Regions from separate parts of the Homo sapiens genome. Here region 1 is linked to region 2. Evidence: fine-mapped expression QTL. A gene starts in region 2. The other region holds a variant in brackets. All regions are shown on one strand. Distances are from middle to middle. Region 1 overlaps CMKLR1 (chemerin chemokine-like receptor 1). Region 2 holds the start of CMKLR1 (chemerin chemokine-like receptor 1).

What was found.
Region 1: its variant is fine-mapped to the expression of CMKLR1 in monocytes (Quach 2016, PIP 0.93).

Annotation. Positions count from the first base shown.
Region 1 is chr12:108,308,691-108,317,905 of GRCh38, reverse strand. The region is part of intron 2 of CMKLR1 (chemerin chemokine-like receptor 1); the gene reads left to right. Among named protein-coding and RNA genes, the nearest start is that of CMKLR1, 26 kb to the left of the region's middle. RefSeq lists an enhancer at 846-1,364 and silencers at 1,080-1,374, 1,480-1,774. The variant T/C (reference allele first, on the strand shown) is at 3,854.
Region 2 is chr12:108,335,134-108,344,348 of GRCh38, reverse strand. It overlaps CMKLR1 (chemerin chemokine-like receptor 1), which reads left to right and starts at 5,038. Exons shown (of 4, transcript NM_001142343.2): 1 at 5,038-5,322. RefSeq lists a silencer at 4,755-4,874 and an enhancer at 4,982-5,605.

The DNA of each region.
Region 1 (9,215 bases), 26 kb after region 2:
AGAAACTCTGGAAGGAGACATGAGGAACTAACATAGGGAGGTGGGTACAGTGGAAACTGGATGGATGGTGGCAGGTAGGAGCAAGATTTTTCATTCTAATCTTTCTATAGTTTTAGATGGTTTGAACATCACCAGTTAGAAGGAGTTGTGATGCCTGGTCAGCAATTTAAATTCAAAAAGCCTATTAGAATTGTGGATGGATGGCTGTTAGGCTAACAGTGTTATTATGTGAATAGTATGTGTGTTGTAAATTCTAAGGCCCGTGGTTTTCATTCCTATTTTCTCCTTGATTGTGACATAAGCACATTTGGAGTTTTCAAACTAGCTGGATTTATTGCCCAGCTGACTACGGCTTTCCTTGATGTCAGAATGAGGCCACCTTTGGCCCACTTTGAACCAGCTGAGAGAGTCCTGTGGGGTTTACACAGAGCCCACCCCTCCCTCCAGTGTCCACATCATCCTCATGACCGTGATGCACTCCTGGTGGCCTCCTGAGGCCATGGGTAGTCAATACCTATGTCTCATAGTGGACCTGCCATTTCATTCCAAGCTCTTGGTGAAATGTTTGTAGGGAAAACAATGCGTTCTTGTGGGCTCTCCTTGACACTAATAACCATGGATGAAGAGAACCTCTAGAGCACATAATGACTGAAACCCATGCTCAATGAAGAGAACTGCTTGGGATGGCTTTCAGCTCATCTTGTGTCTGCCAGGACCTTCCCAAACACTGCCTCCAGCCCACCACCAAACAGGCTGTGTGTTAAATCACACCTTTTCCTGTTAAAATCAACCAATGACATTGAGGCTGGGTACAGTGGCTCATGCCTGTATTCCCAGCCCTTTGGAAGGCTGAGGTGGGTGGATCACTTGAGTCCAGGAGTTGGAGACCAGCTTGGCCAACATGGCGAAACCCCATCTCTACAAAATACAAAAAAAATTAGTGGGGTGTGGTGGTGTATGCCTGTAGTAGTCCTAGCTACTCAGGAGGCTGAAGTGGGAGGATCACTTGAGCCCAGGGAGGTTGAGGCTGCAGTGAGCTGTGATTGAGCTCCCACTGGCGGTTCCAACCGGTGCCTGTGGCTTTCCATCCCAAAGCAAAAGCCCCACCCATTTCTGCTATGGGGTTGACACCTTGCCCGTAGCTCCCTGATCTTTGGGGATTTTGGAAATCCCCAGCACTGCCTTTCCTGTGCTTTTAAATGTATGCAAATGCAATAGCAAATGGCCCTCACCCCAGGAGGACAGCTATTCATGGGGCCCCTCCCTGCCCACACCGGGTGGCTCCATGGGGTCTTGTTAAACCTTCTCAGAGGTTGGCAGAAGACTCCTTTTAGCCTTGTCCCTTTCTTCTTGCCTCTGGGTCTCTCTTCCTGGGGACTTTCTTCACCCTGCCTTCGTCTTTCTTCTGCCACTTTGCTGCTTTGCCCTGACCGCTCTGTCCTCCTTTTTCCAGTCCCTGTGCGTCTCTCCTCTTCCTGCTGGCTTTCCTCTCCCTGCCCCTCTTCCCCCTCTCTTTCTGTCTACGTTGAGGAGGTGTCATCCTCTGTTCTCTCTGCTCTTTCTTGGCTGTGCTGCTTCTTCCTCCCTCCTAAGATCACCTATCCCGCCGAGCCCCTGCCCTGCTGGGGCCTGAAGTGAAGAGGGCTCTTCCCTCAAATTCCCTAGAGCTGAGGGGCAGGGCCAGCATCTCAGGCTGGCGACCAGTGCAGCCACACAGGGCTCAGAAGGCCTGTGCTTTGTTTAACACTTGGCAGTTGCTGTCCTGAATTCTCAGTAATTTTTGAATAAGGGGCTGCATTTTCATTTTGCAGTGACTCCATGAAGTATGCACTGTTTCTGCTGAGGATTATGAACTTCCTGGGGGGAACACATCCCCTCCTCTTAGAGCTGTAAGAGCTGGGCTGAGGCGCAGGGTCCAAGTGCTGGTCCTGCGTCTGCTCCTCACTCACCCAACAGTAAGCAGCAAGATTCATCTTCATTTTACCAATGAGATAAATCAAGGCTCAGAGAGGCCATGTCACTTGCCCAGGGACCCACAGCTCATGAGCCCGGATTGAAGGAAGCTGACTCTGAAATTTGGACATTCTGTGGTCCTTTCCTGGCTGAAACCATAGGGGCTTTGGTAAGCCACCCTTTTATCAGTGAACTAAGGCTCAGTCTTTGCATCTGGAAAATAGAGGTAGTGAAAGTAGCCATCTGTGCAGAACCAGCTGGTGTTTAAATCCTGGAAAGTTCCTGGCACATGGCTACCTCCTGAAACAGCAGCCACAGCCTTTCTGAGCCTCCATTTTCTCATCTGTCAAATGGGGATCATGGTGGTACCTGCCTCACAGGACCCTTATGGGAATTTAATGACACAGGACGTGTGCTTAGCTTAGGGCCTGGCACAAGTAGGTGGGCAAGGCTAGTACACAGGAGCTTCTAGGCCAGAGGAGGGAGTAATCTATGAGTAGGGAAACTGTAGGATTTATTGTCCTGACTGGGGCACTTTGAGAATGAAAGGAACATGACAAGAAGCATAAACAGGGATTGTTGTGGGCAAGCCAGGATGGAGGGTCACTCTACCTGTGTATCAAGTATGTCTTTGTCATGATTGTCTGTTTCATAAAATATGTTCACAGATAGGTGAGTATAAGGATGCCCCAGGCCCACCCCCAGCTGGTGTGGAGAAAGACTGTGTTTGGGCTGGGTGCAGTGGCTCACACCTGTAATCCCAGCACTTTGGGAGGCCGAGGCAGGTGGATCACCTGAGACCAGCCTGACCAACATGGAGAAACCCCATCACTGCTAAAAATACAAAATCAGCCAGGTGTGGTGGCGCATGCCTGTAATCTCAGCTACTTGGGAGGCTGAAGCAGGAGAATCGATTGAACCTGGGAGGTGGATATTGCGGTGAGCTGAGATTGCGCCATTGCACTCCAGCCTGGGCAACAAGAGCAAAACTCCGTCTCAAAAAAAAAAAAAAAAAAAACAAGGCTGTGTTCGAGCCTGGGCCATAGAGAATGATGTCCCTCGGGCTGGGCATGATGGAACATGATGGTAAGCCCAGCACTTTGGGAAGCAAAGTGGGAGGATAGCTTGAGGCCAGAAATTCAAGACCAGCTTGGGCAATATAGCAAGACCTCATCTCCAAAAATTAAAATAATAAAATTTTAAAAAGGGAGGGGGAAAAAAGAAAGAGTAGTGTCCCACTTATCACTGCTACTGCTACCAAAGCTTCAGTTCTGAAAAAACATCAGGGAGAATGACTTAAAGGCCACGGTTCAGGCCCCTTCTCAGATATTCTAGAAAATTCTTTGGATTACACCAGCAGTGCATACACCTGGATGTGTAGACTGAAACTCACAGTCATATCTAGGAAAAGCAGCTTTTACTGAATTGCAGTTTGGGGCAGTGCTGTCCATCAGTGAGTGTTTGGAGCCTCCCTTAAAACATTCAGGAACTGGAGACCCCGTTCCGTGATCAGATCCCCCATGTCTTCTCTCCACAGGCTTCTGGAGACAGTCCTTCTGCTCCTAGCATCAGGAAGCCTTACTATTCCCCTGAGTGGGTTTGGTTTTTAGCAAGGAGCATGTGACTCATGTAACTGGGTCCCCCTTTCAGGAAGCTGGGGTTCCAGTGTATGGTCCAGCCACTGTCAGTGTCTAGGAACTTCTGTGTCCCCTGCATTTCACCCTTAGCCGTGACTCCATTTTCTGTCTCTACACATGTTTCCCTTCCTTCTTTTACTTTAATTTATGTTCCCTGTATAAGTGAGCCTCTTTTGAACCTCCCACCATCCACAGCTGCATCACGCCAATAATTAAGTGAACAAAAATAAAAAATCGACAAACCTGCAAGCAAAACCATATTG[T/C]GGCACCCCTCCCCAACCCAGGAGAGCAGCTCAGTTGGCCTGGTGGGGGTCGGCTGGCAAAGGGTTAAGAATGATGCAGAGGAAGTGCTGGCGGAGATTAAAGGGAGGAAGTGGCTGCTGCCTGGGGAGGGAGGTGGCTGGCTTGTCCTGTGTGACTCCAGGGGCCTAAACCAACACTGACACGAATGTGGCAGTTTGCTCAAGGTCAGTGTAGTGAAAAAAAGGAAGAGCTTTCCAATGACTTGACAAGTCTTTCTAGAAGTTCTACTGGTGGGGGTTTCAAACTCACTGATAGCTGACTCCAGACATAGCTCTCTTTAAACATAACAGCCAAAGGGCATGTTTGTTTGAGCCAGTCTCTTCATGTTCATAGAGTGACCAGCGGGCCCTGATTGGCTGGGACATTCCAGTTTGAGCACTTTACATTCTGCATCCCAGGACACCCCTTGGTTTCTGGCAAACCAGGACAACTGGTCACCCTATGCACCCTACGTATATGATCTCATGAAATCTTTACATTGACCCCCTTTACAGACGAGGAGTCTGTGATTTAGTAATCCAAGATTACATAGCATGGGAAGGGCCAAGCTGGGATTCACATGTGGATTTGCTGTAACTGAGTGAGGCTTAAGCTGTCAGCTGCACTGAGCCACTTCCCTTTTCCTGTAAGATGAGGGTGTGAGACCCCTTGATCCTAAAGCCTCTCTAGCAATGACTTTTAGGATTCTAGAATTTCCTCTGGTCTTCGAGCAGCTTTTTGTTTTCCATGGAAGGTGGGGTGGGGTAGGGTGGGGGGCAATTTTTCCAGCAAGACCCCTCCTAGGTCAAGGCTTGGGCTTTGCCTTGGGAGAGGTGACAGCCTGGTGACAGGGTCAAAAGGAAGGGCAGCCTGCCCCTCCTTCCCTGTGCCTGGGAACAGGGTGGGATCTCATACTCCACCGTCCTGATTGCTGGCAGTGGTGCCAGTCCATTTGTCAGCTGCTTGGGCTGGAGCCAGGGAATTCCAAGGGGCCAGAGCCTGCCTGAGCACTCCAAGGCCTCTGTGCTCGTGGCTGGCAGCCTAGGCAGGAGGACCCTGGGGCAGCTCAGGGCTCTGGGATTTTTCAAAGCTCCATGTGGCTGGACAGGCCTCTACAGACTCCCTGCCCTGGGAGTCTGGCCAGCCTGTGGAGACTGTGCAGAGGGGGGTGATTTGGAGTCTCTAAGTACCCCAAGTCAGTGAGGTAGCATTGTGAATGTGCAAGGTGCGGAAGTTGCACAGGTGGGGACAACTGATATGAGATCACAGGGCCCCGTGTGCAGCAGGCAAGCCACAGAACATAAAGGACAGTGACCGTCACTGAAGACCTGGACTCCAGAGTCAGGCAGTGCAGATTCAGATCTCTCCTCTGCCCCTTCCTACTGTGAGATCTTGGGCCAGTGCCCTTGCTTCTCTATGGCTTGATTTCCACATCTGAAAAATGGGAATGAAAATATCTACCTCGAAGGTTTGTTGTGAGTGGAGGCACTGAGTATGCCGTCTGTGCCTAATAAGCAGGGGGTGGATTCCATGAGCCCCAGACTCTCAGTTTTGGTTCCTCTCACCCCATAGCTGCACCCCAGGACCCTGTGACAGGCAGTGGGTGAGGGCTCTTCCCCATGGAGAAGCCGTGCTGGTAGGCTGTAAGGGAAGTCCTAGGGAGAGGAAGGAATGCTGCCTGGACACGTTTCACAGTCTTGTGATGAAAGGGGCCTGTCAGCCCATCCACGATGCTTGGAAATGCTGTGATAAGGGCATAGATGCTTTGAGTTCTCACAGATCTGAGTTCAAGTCCTGGTTCCACTGGGCACTGGCTGGCGATCCTGATCTGGTTCCTTTTACAGCCTCAGTTTCAACATCTGTGAAATGGAGGTAATGTCCTCAGGCCAGGGGGAAGATGGATTGTCAGGACACAAGGAGATGAGGGGGTGTCAAGCTCACAGCTAGGTGCCTGGCACGTAACAGGATGGGTCTCTTTCCTCTTGTCACCTTGCTGTTTGCTCTGCCTGGATTTGTGCACATGAGGCTGGGAGAAGCAAGGGGATGCTTGTGGAAAGCACACCCCAGGCAGAGGGACCTGCAAGAGCAGAGGCCCAGGTGCTTTGAACCATGCTCGGGGTACTGGGCTCCTTAAGCACAGGGAGCAGGTTGGTTTGGAAGGACTTGGCCTCTGAGGTCCCCCCAGCAGTCCTTCCGTGCCCCCAGCCTGGGGCTTCCCATGAGTCCTGCAGCCCTGTCCTGGGTCAGGGGTCGCTGACTTCACTTGGGTTGTCCAAGGGGAAGGGAGGCTAATGCCCATGCTCAGTGGCCCACCCTTCCTCCTGTTGCCTCTTGCCTCCACCAGCTCTCCCCCTCTATGCTGCCTTTTCCCCTTAGCGTCCTTTCCCTGGCACTTTTTTTCTTTTTAGGAGGCAAAGTCTTGCTCTGTCACCCAGGCTGGAGCGCAGTGGTGCAATCATAGCTCACTGCAGCCTCGACTTCCTGGGCTCAAGCGAGCCTCCCACCTTAGCCTCCTGAGTAGCTGGGACTAAAAGGTGTGTGTCACCACACTTGGCTAAATTTTTAAATTAAAATTTTTTCCCCTAGAGGCAGGGTCTCTCTATGATGCCCAAGCTGGTGTTGTACTCCTGGCTATAAGTGACCCTCCCGCCTCAGCCTCCCAAAGTGCTGGGATTACAGGCATGAGCCACTGTGCCCAGTCTCCCTAGCACTTTTAAGTGTTAATATCTCACACGCACACATACACACATTCATGTCAACCACTAACTGGATCTGACATAGTAGGAATGGTTTTGGCATCTGAGCCCCAGTCCTGACGCCATTTTGCTGTATAACTGTGGCCAAAAACCTCCTTTGTGTGTGGGCCTCTGCTTCTCCATCGTCATCACGACATTGACTTCAGTTCACTGGGGAAAAGTTGAAAGCAGGACCCTGATGGTGGAATTGAAGGCATAGCAGCAGTGTGTATCTGGCATCAATTTGCAGTGGGGGATGCCTTTCCAGAACCCCAGCACCAGACCCCAGAGACTGCTGACTGCTCCTTCATCTGCACCCTGCTCATCTCCTGGGCGGGGGGTGGGGGGGCGGTCTTCGAACTTACCTGCCTCACACACGTGTCCTGGGATGTGCCTCCCTGGTGAGCTGCAGGTTCTGGCTGCCCCTCAGCACTGCCTCCCTCCTGTCTCTGCCTACCCGCCTTGCTGAAAGGCCCTGGGTCCATGAGGCCCGGGGATGGGGGACTCGGTGTTACCATGGCAACCATAGCTTATCTGTGGCATCATGGACTCCGGGGGAAGATGGCTCCCAGCCCCCAGGACTGGACAGTATGGGCCCTTCTCTGTGACCTGGCTTTTCCCGTGAAGACCCATCTGAGTATCTCTGGTCCTCACTCCTCCGCTCACTCAAGACCTTTCTTGGAGCATTGGTGGTTGCCATGGAAATGGCTCTGGAAGCAAACCAGTCCCTGTGGGCTGAGGAAAAATCCTTAAGAAAAATAAAGAGATTGCTTGGCTTCCTGGCTCTCTGATGGGACATCCTGATGCCTGGAGCCTCCAAAAACTGCACTTTCTGGGTAGGCCTGGAACTGGCAGAAGGATCCTCAGTTCACCAGGCCTCTTGCTATTCTCCTGCCTCCAGCCTTTCCTCTTCCAACGCAGTGCCCACATCAGCCACCCAGGTTAGAAGCTGGAATCTTTTTAGAAGGATGATACCCTCTGCTTAAAACCATCCATGGCTCCCTATTGCCCATAGGATAAAGTTGATGGCTTGCAGGGATCTCACAATCTGAAACCCTCTTCTTTCCTTAGCCACATCTCCTGCCTTCTCCCCTCCCCTAACACACACACACACACACACACACACACACACACAGCCCCTAACCACACTTTTTCAAGCCTCTGTTCCTCTGCAGGTATGTCATTTCCCTCGGCTGCTCCACCTGGCAAAGGCTTCATACCCTCCAAGGCTCAGCTCAAATGCCACCTCCTCCAGGAAGCATCCCCTGATTTCCCCAGCCCTTTCTCTTTACTTTGTGCAGAGCCAGGGCCACACACTCAGTGACCAACAGGGCCAGGCAGGAGACCCAAATGACCCATTTATGAACATTTTTCATGTCCACAAAGACATACGTGCTCTCCTATGAAAGCTGAAAATGAGAATGACTTGGTTCCTCTTTCTCTCACTGGATTGCACTTATTTCTGCCACAGCAGAGACCCTGGACAAACTCAATGGCAAATTGCAACTGGCTTATTACCCCAGGGAACAATAGGGAGGGGTGGGGACTGTGGATAACCCCTGTTCTGTAATGCAAGCCCAGCATGGCCAGTTTGCTGGAAGCCTGGAATTTAGGTGACATCTCAGAATACTGACTGTGCCACGATCTGTTCCTGCAACCACTTTCTCTGCATGAAGGTAGTGACTGGGCCATCTTACTCCCACAGCATTTGGCAAGGAGTGTGACCCTTAGACGTTGCCCACTACTGGCTTTTTTTTTTTTTGGAGATGGAGGTCTCACCCTGTCACCCAGGTTGGAGTGTAGTGGTGCAATCATAGCTCACTGCAGCCCTAAGCTGCTGGGCTCAAGCGATCCTCCTGCCTTTGCATCTGCTGTTCCCACTGCCTACCATGCTCTTCCACAGCACCAGCCCATGTCTCCCTCTCTGTGTATTCAGGTCTCCATTCAAAGGTGGAACAGGGCATAAATGCTGGGGGAGGGGAATTCTATGTTAGGGAGAGCGTTCCAAGAAGCTTCTCTGAGAAGATGACCCTCTTTGTATTTTATTCACAGCACAAATCACTGCCTGCTATTATATTCATTGTATTTTTTCAGCATTTACATAGAGCTTCCGATGAACCAGGCATGCTTCTAAAACATTACCAACATAAACCCATTACCAACATTCAATCCTTGCAACAACTCTGTGAGGGAGGAGCAATGATCACTCCTATTTTCCAGATGAGGGAACTGAGGCACAGAGAAGTGTGATGACTTGCCCATGGTCACACAGCAGAGCTGGGATTCAAACCGAGGCAGTCTGGCTCCAGATGTGTTTGTCTTCCTTATTATGTATTTGTTTACTTGACTGTTTAGCATCTGTCACCCCCGACTACCCCTCGACTCCAAGGGCAGGGATGTGTCTGGTTTGTTCCCTGCTGCAACCCCAGTACTCAGATCCAGGCCTGGCTCATAATAGGTATTTAATGACTATTTCTTGGAAGGATGGAGGAAGGGAAACAGGAGGATTAGAGGACTGGAAGGAAGAATCTTTGGCCTTCAGAGCTGAGCCCAATATCAAGATTGTCTTGTCGGAAGCTTCTCAGCCTCCTGAGGGATTTGAGTCAGC
Region 2 (9,215 bases):
GTGGTGCCATCTTGTCTCACTGCAACCTCCACCTCCTGGTTCAAGCAATTCTCCTGCCTCAGCCTCCCAAAAAGCTGGGATTACAGGCATGTGCTGCCATGCTTCGCTATTATCTTTTTTAGCAGAGATAGGGTTTCACGATGTTGGCCAGGCTGGTCTTGAACTCCTGGCCTCAAGCAATTGTCCTGCCTTGGCCTCCCAAAATGCTGGGATTATAGGCGTGAGGCACCATGCCTAGCCTGCCTGAGAATCTTTCCTGGTAATTAAGGGGTTCTTAGAAAGCATCATATCTCATTTAAAATGGGGAGTTTCACTGGGCGCGGTGGCTCACGCCTGTGTCCCAGTACTTTGGGAGGCCAAGGTGGAAGGATCACTTGAGGTCAGGAGTTCGAGACCAGCCTGGCCAACATGGCGAAACCCCATCTCTACTAAAAATACAAAACTTACCAGGTGTGATGGTGCGTGCCTATAATCCCAGCTACTTGGGAGGCTGAGGTGAGAGAATCACTTGAACCCAGGAGGCTGAGCTTGCAGTGAGCCCAGATCTTGCTACTGCACTCCAGCCTGGGCAACAGATTGAGGGAGACTCAGTCTCAAAAGAATTTTTTAAAAAAGTAAATAAATAAATAAAATGAATTCTCCAGCAGGCCAGCTTCCTGAGCATAGGGCATGGCTGTCTTGTTCACCAGCCTGTGCCTGCCACAGAGATGGGGTCCAGTAAGCATCTATTGAGCACTGAATGAACCAGAGAAGGTATATGAGTCCCCCAAGGTCACACAGCCCATCTTTGGCTGAAATAGAGGAGCTCTCATTCCCATGTGGCCTGTCTATGCCTTAAAGAAAGTCCAAAGTAGGCAGAGTTTGGACTTAGAGAGGATCCTTCATGTGGCAGGATGCATCTTTGAAGACCTCCTTTGGTTGGGAGCCTCTCTGCTGAGCCTAGTTTAGCCACTGATGATCAGGGAGGCTGGGGAAACCGTTCAGCTTTAAGTAGAGTGTTAGGAATCTGTGAACACTAAAGATCTGCCGGAAGGAGCTACCCAGTGGCTTGGGAATGAGATATAAGCTCCATTACACTAGGCACAGCCAGTACCAGGAGAGGGAGTGGTAGGGGTGGAACCAGTCCCTGCTGAACCAGTCCACCCTGCGCCAATGGGACAGAGTTTAGTTGGAGGACAGCATGGGATGAGAAAGGCAACCCTCCTCCCACTCCAGGTCCAGGGCAGGCATTGCTCACGGATCACTGAGTTCCTTGCAGCCAGGCCAGGATGTGGCCTCAGATTCCCTTTAACACAGAGCTCCAGGAATCAAGAACCAGTCAACCCGAGCTGGACCTCAAAAGGAAGCTTGACCCTCCATCCTGATTCTATGTGGAGCTGCCAGGGGTGTACACAGAGGTTCCTCTGAGGGTCCTGGAGGAGACTGCTTCTCTCTCAAGTCCCAGTATCCCCAGGTCAGCCCTTAGATTTCAAAATCCTCTTTAAAACAAAAGCATAAAAACCCCCACAAGCAACAACAAACACTTTTTGCTCCAAGAAAGAAAAGCCAAACTGTTCAGCCCTGTTCAAAAGGGATGGCCAAAGGCCCGTGGCTTCAGATTGTCCCACAGCCACCAGGTGGAGAGTCATAAGCCAGGCAGCCCCACGCCTTCCTCACTGGCCCAGTGGGGCTGTGGGTTCCCACCTCCTCTGCCAGCCACCCAGGGACCCAGCTGGCTGGGGGACCAGTGTCCTTGCTCTGCCAGTTGTGGCTCCTAGCTGATGAGACCCGAGCTTAGGTTTGGCTGGGAGGCCAGAGGCAGAGGGAGGCATGCCACAGCCACAGCCACCTCCAGGGAGGAAGAGGCATGTCCAGGAGTCCATCCCCGGGCTGGATTTACCCAGCTCCTCTTCCATAGTACCCGTGTGCTTGATCTTCCTCGAAGGCTGCCTTCTGGCCTCCTTCTCTTCTCTCCCACTCTCCCTCCTCTCCCCCACTCCTTCTTCTCCTCCCCTCTCCTTTATCTCCCTTTCCTCCCCTTCTTCTCTTTCCCCCTTCCTCCTTCTGACCCCCTCCTCCCCTTTCTTCCTCTTCCCTCCTCCTCTCCTCTTCCCTCTTTTTCCTCTTTTCATCTCCCTCCTCCCTTTCCCTCCTCCTCCTTACCCCCTCCCCCTCTTCTCCTCCTCCCTCTCCCCTCTCCTCCCCTTGACCCCTCCTCTTCCCTCCTCCTCCTCTCTTCCTCCTTCCTCCTCCTCTTTTCATCTCCTTCCTCCCTTTCCCTCCTCCTCCTTACTCCCTCCTCCTCGTCTCCTCCTCCCCCACCCTCTCCTCCTCCCCTTTCTTTCTCTTCCCTCCTCCTCCGCTCCTCTTCCCTCCTCCTCTTTTCATATCCCTCCTCCCTTTCCCTCCTCCTCCTCCCCCTCCCCTCTCCTCTACTTGGCCCCTCCTTTTTCCTCCTCCTCCTCTCCTCTTTCCCTCCTCCTCCTCTCCTTTTTCCCTCCTCCTCTTTTCCTCTCCCTCCTCCCTTTCCCTCTTCCTCCTCTTCCTCTTCCACTGTCCACAGCAGATGAGGAAACTGAGACTCCAAAGGTGAAAGGCCTTGCCCAAGTCACACAGCTTACAGTGACAGCGACAGGAATTCAAACCAGGTCCGTCTGCTATCAAAGCCTCTGTTCTTAGCCACTATTCTGTGCATTGGCAAGGTGACTTGTTCCAGGGCCCATTTCAATGGATTCCTAATTGAAATGCCTATGTCAGTGGATCTCAAACTTGAGCAAGCATCAGAATCCCCTGGAGGGCTTCTTAAAACCCAGATGGCTTCCTGGAGTCTCTGATTGCCAAGGTCTGCAGTGAGGCCCAAGGGTTTGTGTTTCTAACAAACTTCTGGGTGAGGCTGCTGGGGTTGGTATGGAAACTAGACTTTAGGAACCTCTGGTCTCTATTAGATGGTGATATACAAGATCCCTGCCACGTTATGGAAATATCCTCTCCTTTCACCAGGAGAACCTGGGGAATGACATGATTTGGCTTTGTGTCCCGACCCAAATCTCATCTTGAATTGGAATTCCATAATCCTCACGAGTCATGGGAGGGACCAGGTGGGAGGTAATTGAACATGGGGGTGGTTTTCCCCCCATCCTGTTCTCATGATAGTGAGTGAGTTCTCATGAAATCTGATGGTTTTATAAGAGGCTTCCCCCTTTGCCTGGCACTCATTGTCTCTCCTGCCACCCTGTGAAGAGGTACCTTCCATCATGATTGTAAGTTTCCTGAGGCCTCCCCTGCTATGCGAAAATGTGAGTCAATTAAACCTTTTTTCTTTATAAATTACCCAGTCTTGGGTATTTCTTCACAGCAGTGTGAGAACGGACCAATACAATTACTAACTTCTGGGTGACCTTGGGTGAGTCCCTTGCCTCCTCTGGGTTCAGTGTTCTCATCTGTACAGTAAGTGTTTCGATATGATGTTTTGTTCCCTAGATAAGCCCAAAGAAGAAGAGAGCAAGGAAGACAGTTGGGTAGACTGGGCCTGACTTCTGACTATAGAGACCTGTGTGACCTCAGGCAAGAGACTCAATCTCTCTGGGCTTCAAGTTATCTGTGAAATGGAAGAATGAAATTAGATGGTTTCTAAGTGTAAAGCTCACTGAATTAAAGGATTGAGGATGGTGGGGAGAGGTCGGTGGGGTTCTAAGGCTGATCAGACGATGAGGACATAGTCCTCCACCTGCCCAAGACTTTGAGGCCCAAAACACAGGTTTCTCTCCTTCTCTCCCTCCCTCCCCATCTCCCTCTCCCTTCACCTTCCCCTCCTCCCCATTACCTTCCTCCCTGCCCTCCCTTTTCTTCCTTTCTTTCTTCTCCTCCCTTCCCCTCTCTTCCCCTCCCCTGCCCTTCCCTTTTCTTTTTCTTTCTAAAAATATTATTTTAGGCAGTCGTAGGCAGTCTTGGCTTTGGAATCAGACAGACTCAGATCCAGCCATGGCTCGGTCAGCATGAGCTTGGCGCCCTGGGCAAAACGACTTCTGCTCTGTGGCCCTAGCATCCTCATGTGTAGAATGGGCAAGTGATGCCCCCCCGACGTGGGTGGTGGTTCACACGGCTTACTCCATGGAAGCACTTGGCACAGGGGCCCACATGGGCACTTCTGTTATTTCTTCAGTCTGGAGGCCAAGGGTGGGCCTCCGAGCCAGACAACATAGTTGGAATCCCAGCTCTGTCAGCTGCTGGCGGTGTGGTCTTGAGCAAGTGACTTAATCTCTCTGTACCCCAGTTTCCTTATTGGTAAGACTGGAGTAGTAATAATTCCTGTTATCTAGGGTTGCCGTGAAGAGTAAGTACGCATCGCCTAGCACGCTGCCTGGCTGTCGGTTGTTTTGATTATTCCACTAATGATGGTGACCACACAGCCGATGAACCAGGCACTTAGCGCCTGGTTAGGGCAGGGAACAGAATACAGTTCTTTCCCTACAGAGTTCCTGGTGCAAGGAGTTCTCGGTGCAAGGAGAGAGACATCTTAACAGGCAAGGACAGCACTGCATCAGTGAGGTGATGGGGTGACCCTGAGGGGCACAGCAGCCCCCGAGGGTTGGGGAAGGCTTCCCTGGGAGGTGACCTTCAACCTGAGACCTGAAGAGGCAGTAGGAGACCATCGGGCCACGAATTAGGGCAGGAATAGCATCCAGGTGGGAGGAACAGCGTTGCAAAGGCCCAGGGTGAGAGGCAGCCAATCTCTCGGTCAGTGTGGAGCTTGAGCCCCTCACCGGGAGCAGAGGCGCTTGCACTTCCCCCAGCAGCCGGGTGCTCAGATGTGCTCCCTGTTTGCGCTCAGTGGGCACGGCTCCCCGGCTGCAAGAGGCTGCCAGAGGGGCGGGTCGTCCCCAGCGGGCCCCCGCCGCCACCCACAAGCCCAGTCCCCGGCTGGTAGGGGCACCCTCCCCTCGCAGCCCCCTCTCCACGCAGCTAGCCGCCCCCGCCCTAGGTCAGCCCAGTTTCCTGCCCCTCCCTCCTGCTCTCCTCCCTCCAGCTGTTTCTCTGGCTGAGTTCTGTCCCAGTCCCATTCAGGGAAGCAGCCCCGGCGGCCAGCAGGGAGCTCAGGACAGAGCAGGCTCCCTGGGAAGCCTCCGGGTGATAGGGGTGTTCCAGCTGCGGCGCTCTGGGGGTTCAGAGGGGGATCTTGAATGAACAAATGAATGAACTGCTTTCTGGGCAAACAGCCACAGCCAGAGGAGCCTGTGATTGGCAGAAAGAAGCCAGGGTGTGCAAGTCTCCCCAACAGCCTCGAGTGGCCTGCAGTCACAGGGAACCCTCAGGAAGACCTTCCGGGCAGAGACCAGAGGGAAGGTATCATCACACACTTGCCTTGGGTGTCTTCTGAGGGGGGCCAGGGAAGGGGAATGAATACTAACAGAGAGAAAAGTTTGTTTCTTTTTATAATTTCATATTTGTTAAAAGGAAGAGTTTTGTTATTATTTTCAGATGTCAAAAGTAATGCATGTTCATTGTTTAAAGAAATAGCAAGGATACACAACTAAATATATGAATGTGGATTTCCACATCTAGTTTGGTAACCTGCTTAACCACAGATTGTGAACTTTTTTCCATATCACCTATATTCTTCCAATATACATTTTTCATGGCTGCATAGAAAGGCTATCTTAAGATTATTTGACTTTTCCATAATAGATTTGCTTCTTTTTTTTTATTAGAACAGTGCTGCAATGAATATTTAGTATGACATCTTTGTGTGTGTGTCTTATGAATACCTTTTAGAAATTGCTAGATTTAAGGTTTGCCTATTTTTAAGACTTCTGAGCTTTTGGTCACACTGCACCCTGGAAGGCCGTGGCAGCTTGACCTCTCTACGATGTTATACCAGGGCACAGTATTCTCACATACTAAACCCACCTTGTTGCTACCCATCCCTTAAACTTTCCCTGATGTGAAGTCGAGAATAATATCTAGATGCTTCAATAGGCATTTCATTTCTTTGTTAGTGTTGATTCTCTTTTATAAACTTATTTTTCACATTTCTAGTCTGACTCTCCTGTTCAAGTCTGTTCCCATTTTTTTCTCCTCTGGGGGCATGTTTATCTTTTTCCAATTGATATCTAAGGGTTCTTTGTATATAAAGGACACAAAACCTTTGCCGGCACTCTCTGTTGAAAATATTCCACTCCCTCCTCTGTCTTCAGAATAGCCCATTTTAAATGGGCAAGCCAGCTTTGGCAAAATTATAAGCATTACAACATCAGGGAACTACTACTTGATATAAGCCCAATCACTCAGACCTGTGCGGTTCAGAGATGCCAGATCACTGGTCTGAGGTCACACGCCTGAACGTCCAGGTTCTGAGTCTTTCTTTTTCTATTAGGGAAAGCCCTCAACTTCCCTTTTGCATCCCCTACCTCCTTCTCAAGACCAATCTTCTCTGTGGTTCTTGCTGTATCTCCTGCCCCTTCCAAACTGGTTTGAAGGTAAGATTCCTCTAAATGCCTTGGCTGCTGAGGTGAGTGTGACTGGGTCATTCAGGCCTCTGGTGCAGGAGGAGGCAGCTTGGCCTTTTCTTTAACCTAAACCAGTGGCACTCAAATGATGATGTGTCATACACTTGGGAGGTCCACAGGAGAGTTATCTCTTGATGCACAGGGGCCTTCTTTGGACTCCCCCAAAACTTCAGGGAACAGATAACCTTAACTTTGGGCAAGTCATGCCTTTCTCTGGCTTGACTTGTTCTGAGAAGTCCCCTACCCGCACTGGGTCAGGGCTTGTCTGCTAGGCTCTCCCAGGGCCTATCCCTCCCTTATCACGGCTCCTACCACACCGTGTTCTAATGACCAGTCATCTTGTCTGTCTCTCCTTCTAGCCGGGAGGCCCCTAGAGGCCAGATCTGGGATATTACTTTTTTTCTGCATCCTCAGTCCCCTGCACAAGAACTAGCATATATTAGGGTCATTGTTCATGGAATAAATAAAGTAACCAGGTGTCAGTTTCACCATCTGTAAAATGGGGTGGGGGAAGTTGGACTGAAGTCCCATCTCTTAGATGTTTACCTAATAACTCCTCTCAGTTTGCAAACCACTTTCTCGAGATGATTTTATCAAATCCTCACCATGGCCACATGATGAAGGTACTATTAACATGCCCATTTTACAGATTAGGAAACAGAAGCCTGGAGAGTTCTGATGCTAGACCTCCCCACAAAAGGGAGTAGAACATTGTGCAAGAAGGGGCACCTTGGTCTTAGGCAAGGTACTCCCACTCTCTGGCCACAATAATATCATCTGTAAATAAGGATGATATTATTTGATATTATTATCACTCTGGGGGTGGGCTTGAATTGGCCTGCCACCTGCCAACTGAGTGACATGGAATCAGTTATTCCTCATCTTTGTGCCTGAGTTTCCTCATCTATAAAATGGGAATATGATCAGTAACTGCCTCATAAGATTATTCTAAAGAGTAAATGAGATCATACAAGTAAAGCTGTAAGCAGAGGATTTGTTGTAAAATAAGGTCTCTATAAACATTAGCTATTGTTCTGATGATCATTTCTATTCCACTGTGCCTGTCTATACCTGTGACACTCATCTGAGCCAAATGGAAATTATTATTGATTTCTTTAGTGGATTATTAATGCTCTTATTCCCACTGATGTACAAGAAAACCAAAAGCTTATTTCATTCTCTTTGAGCTACACCACATGGGTGCAGACATTACCGCCAGTTGCGAGGCTATGAAGTAGACTCAGAGCTTCTCAAAGTGCAATCTCTAGACCACCTGCATTAGAATAATTGTGAGTGTTTCTTTTTTTTTTTTTTCCTGGAGATGGAGTCTCGCTCTGTCGCCCAGGCTGGAGTACAGTGGCGCAATCTTGGCTCACTGCAAGCTCTGCCTCCCGGGTTCACGCCATTCTCCTGCCTCAGCCTCCCAAGTAGCTGCGACTACAGGCACCCACCACCCCGCCCGGCTAATTTTTTGTATTTTTAGTAGAGACGGGGTTTCACCGTATTAGCCAGGATGGTCTCAATCTCCTGACCTTGTGATCCACCCACCTCGGCCTCCAAAAGTGCTGGGATTACAGGCGTGAGCCACTGCGCCCGGCCAATTGTGAGTGTTTCTTAAAGCTTCAGTTTGGAAATCAGAATCTCTGTGGATGAGGCTTCAGTGTCTGCATGTTGAACCAGCACCCCAGGTCATTCAGATGCACCCCAAAACTTGAGAACTACCAACCTAGAGTGCTTAAAAGTCTTTCCTTTTTGCCCTTTGTTCACACTGGGGTCTTGGGTTCTTTGCTGCACAATAAGGTTTCTTTTTTCCCTTCTAAGCAAATATTCATGTACTTCTGTGAATCCACATGTTCCGTGTCAGCAGTTGAGGCCAGAAGGTTTGGCAGAGAAGAAGCGAAACTTTGTCTTATAGTACCACAGAAAGTCAGATCGTGTTAGCAATCCCCCAGCATGGAGGCTTTGAAATTATTTTCAGTTGCAGAATCCTTTCCACAAATGAAAGTCTTATGGGGAAGTGTAATTTGAAAACAGATAAAGGTGGTGTTATTCTTGTTGAAACAGAGGTGGAAGACTCCAGGCTGCCACTAAATCTCACTCTTGTTGCTGAAGGGCCTCTAAGAATCTTTGTAGCTCCATGGGGCAGGCAGGAAACTGCAACTCCTCTACTCCAAGGAGTTAAGAGACCAAAGTTCTAGACATTTGTTGAGCTTACTGTGTGACCTTGGCAAGGCACTCTTACTCTTTGGCCACAATAATTTCATCTGTAAATAAGGAGGTCGAATGGTATATCAGCTAGGGTAGTAGCTGCAGTAACAAATAGGTCCCCAAAGGCATAAGGGCTGAAGCAAAGCAGAGCTTTATTATAAGGCAAGTATTTCTGAATGGAGGGTGGTCCTCTTCCTCATGGTACTTCAGTGACTCATCTGGTGGTCCCACTCTCTCCTCAGATATCCTCATTGTCTGCAGCCAGGTGCACAAGACAAAAGAAAGTATGGAGGTGGCATATTTGCTTATCTGCTTTGGCCTGGAAGCAGCAGACATGACTTCCACTCACATGAGAACTATCATGTGGCCAATCTAGTTGCAAAGGAGGCCAGGACATGGAGTTACAAGGATATGAGGTTCTTGGCAAAGAGCAGCTCTTTCCCAGCCACAGTCGTGTATTGTGGACAGGGAGAATGAATTTTTGTGGACAGCTACCTGTCTCTGTCACAAATGTGGTGACCT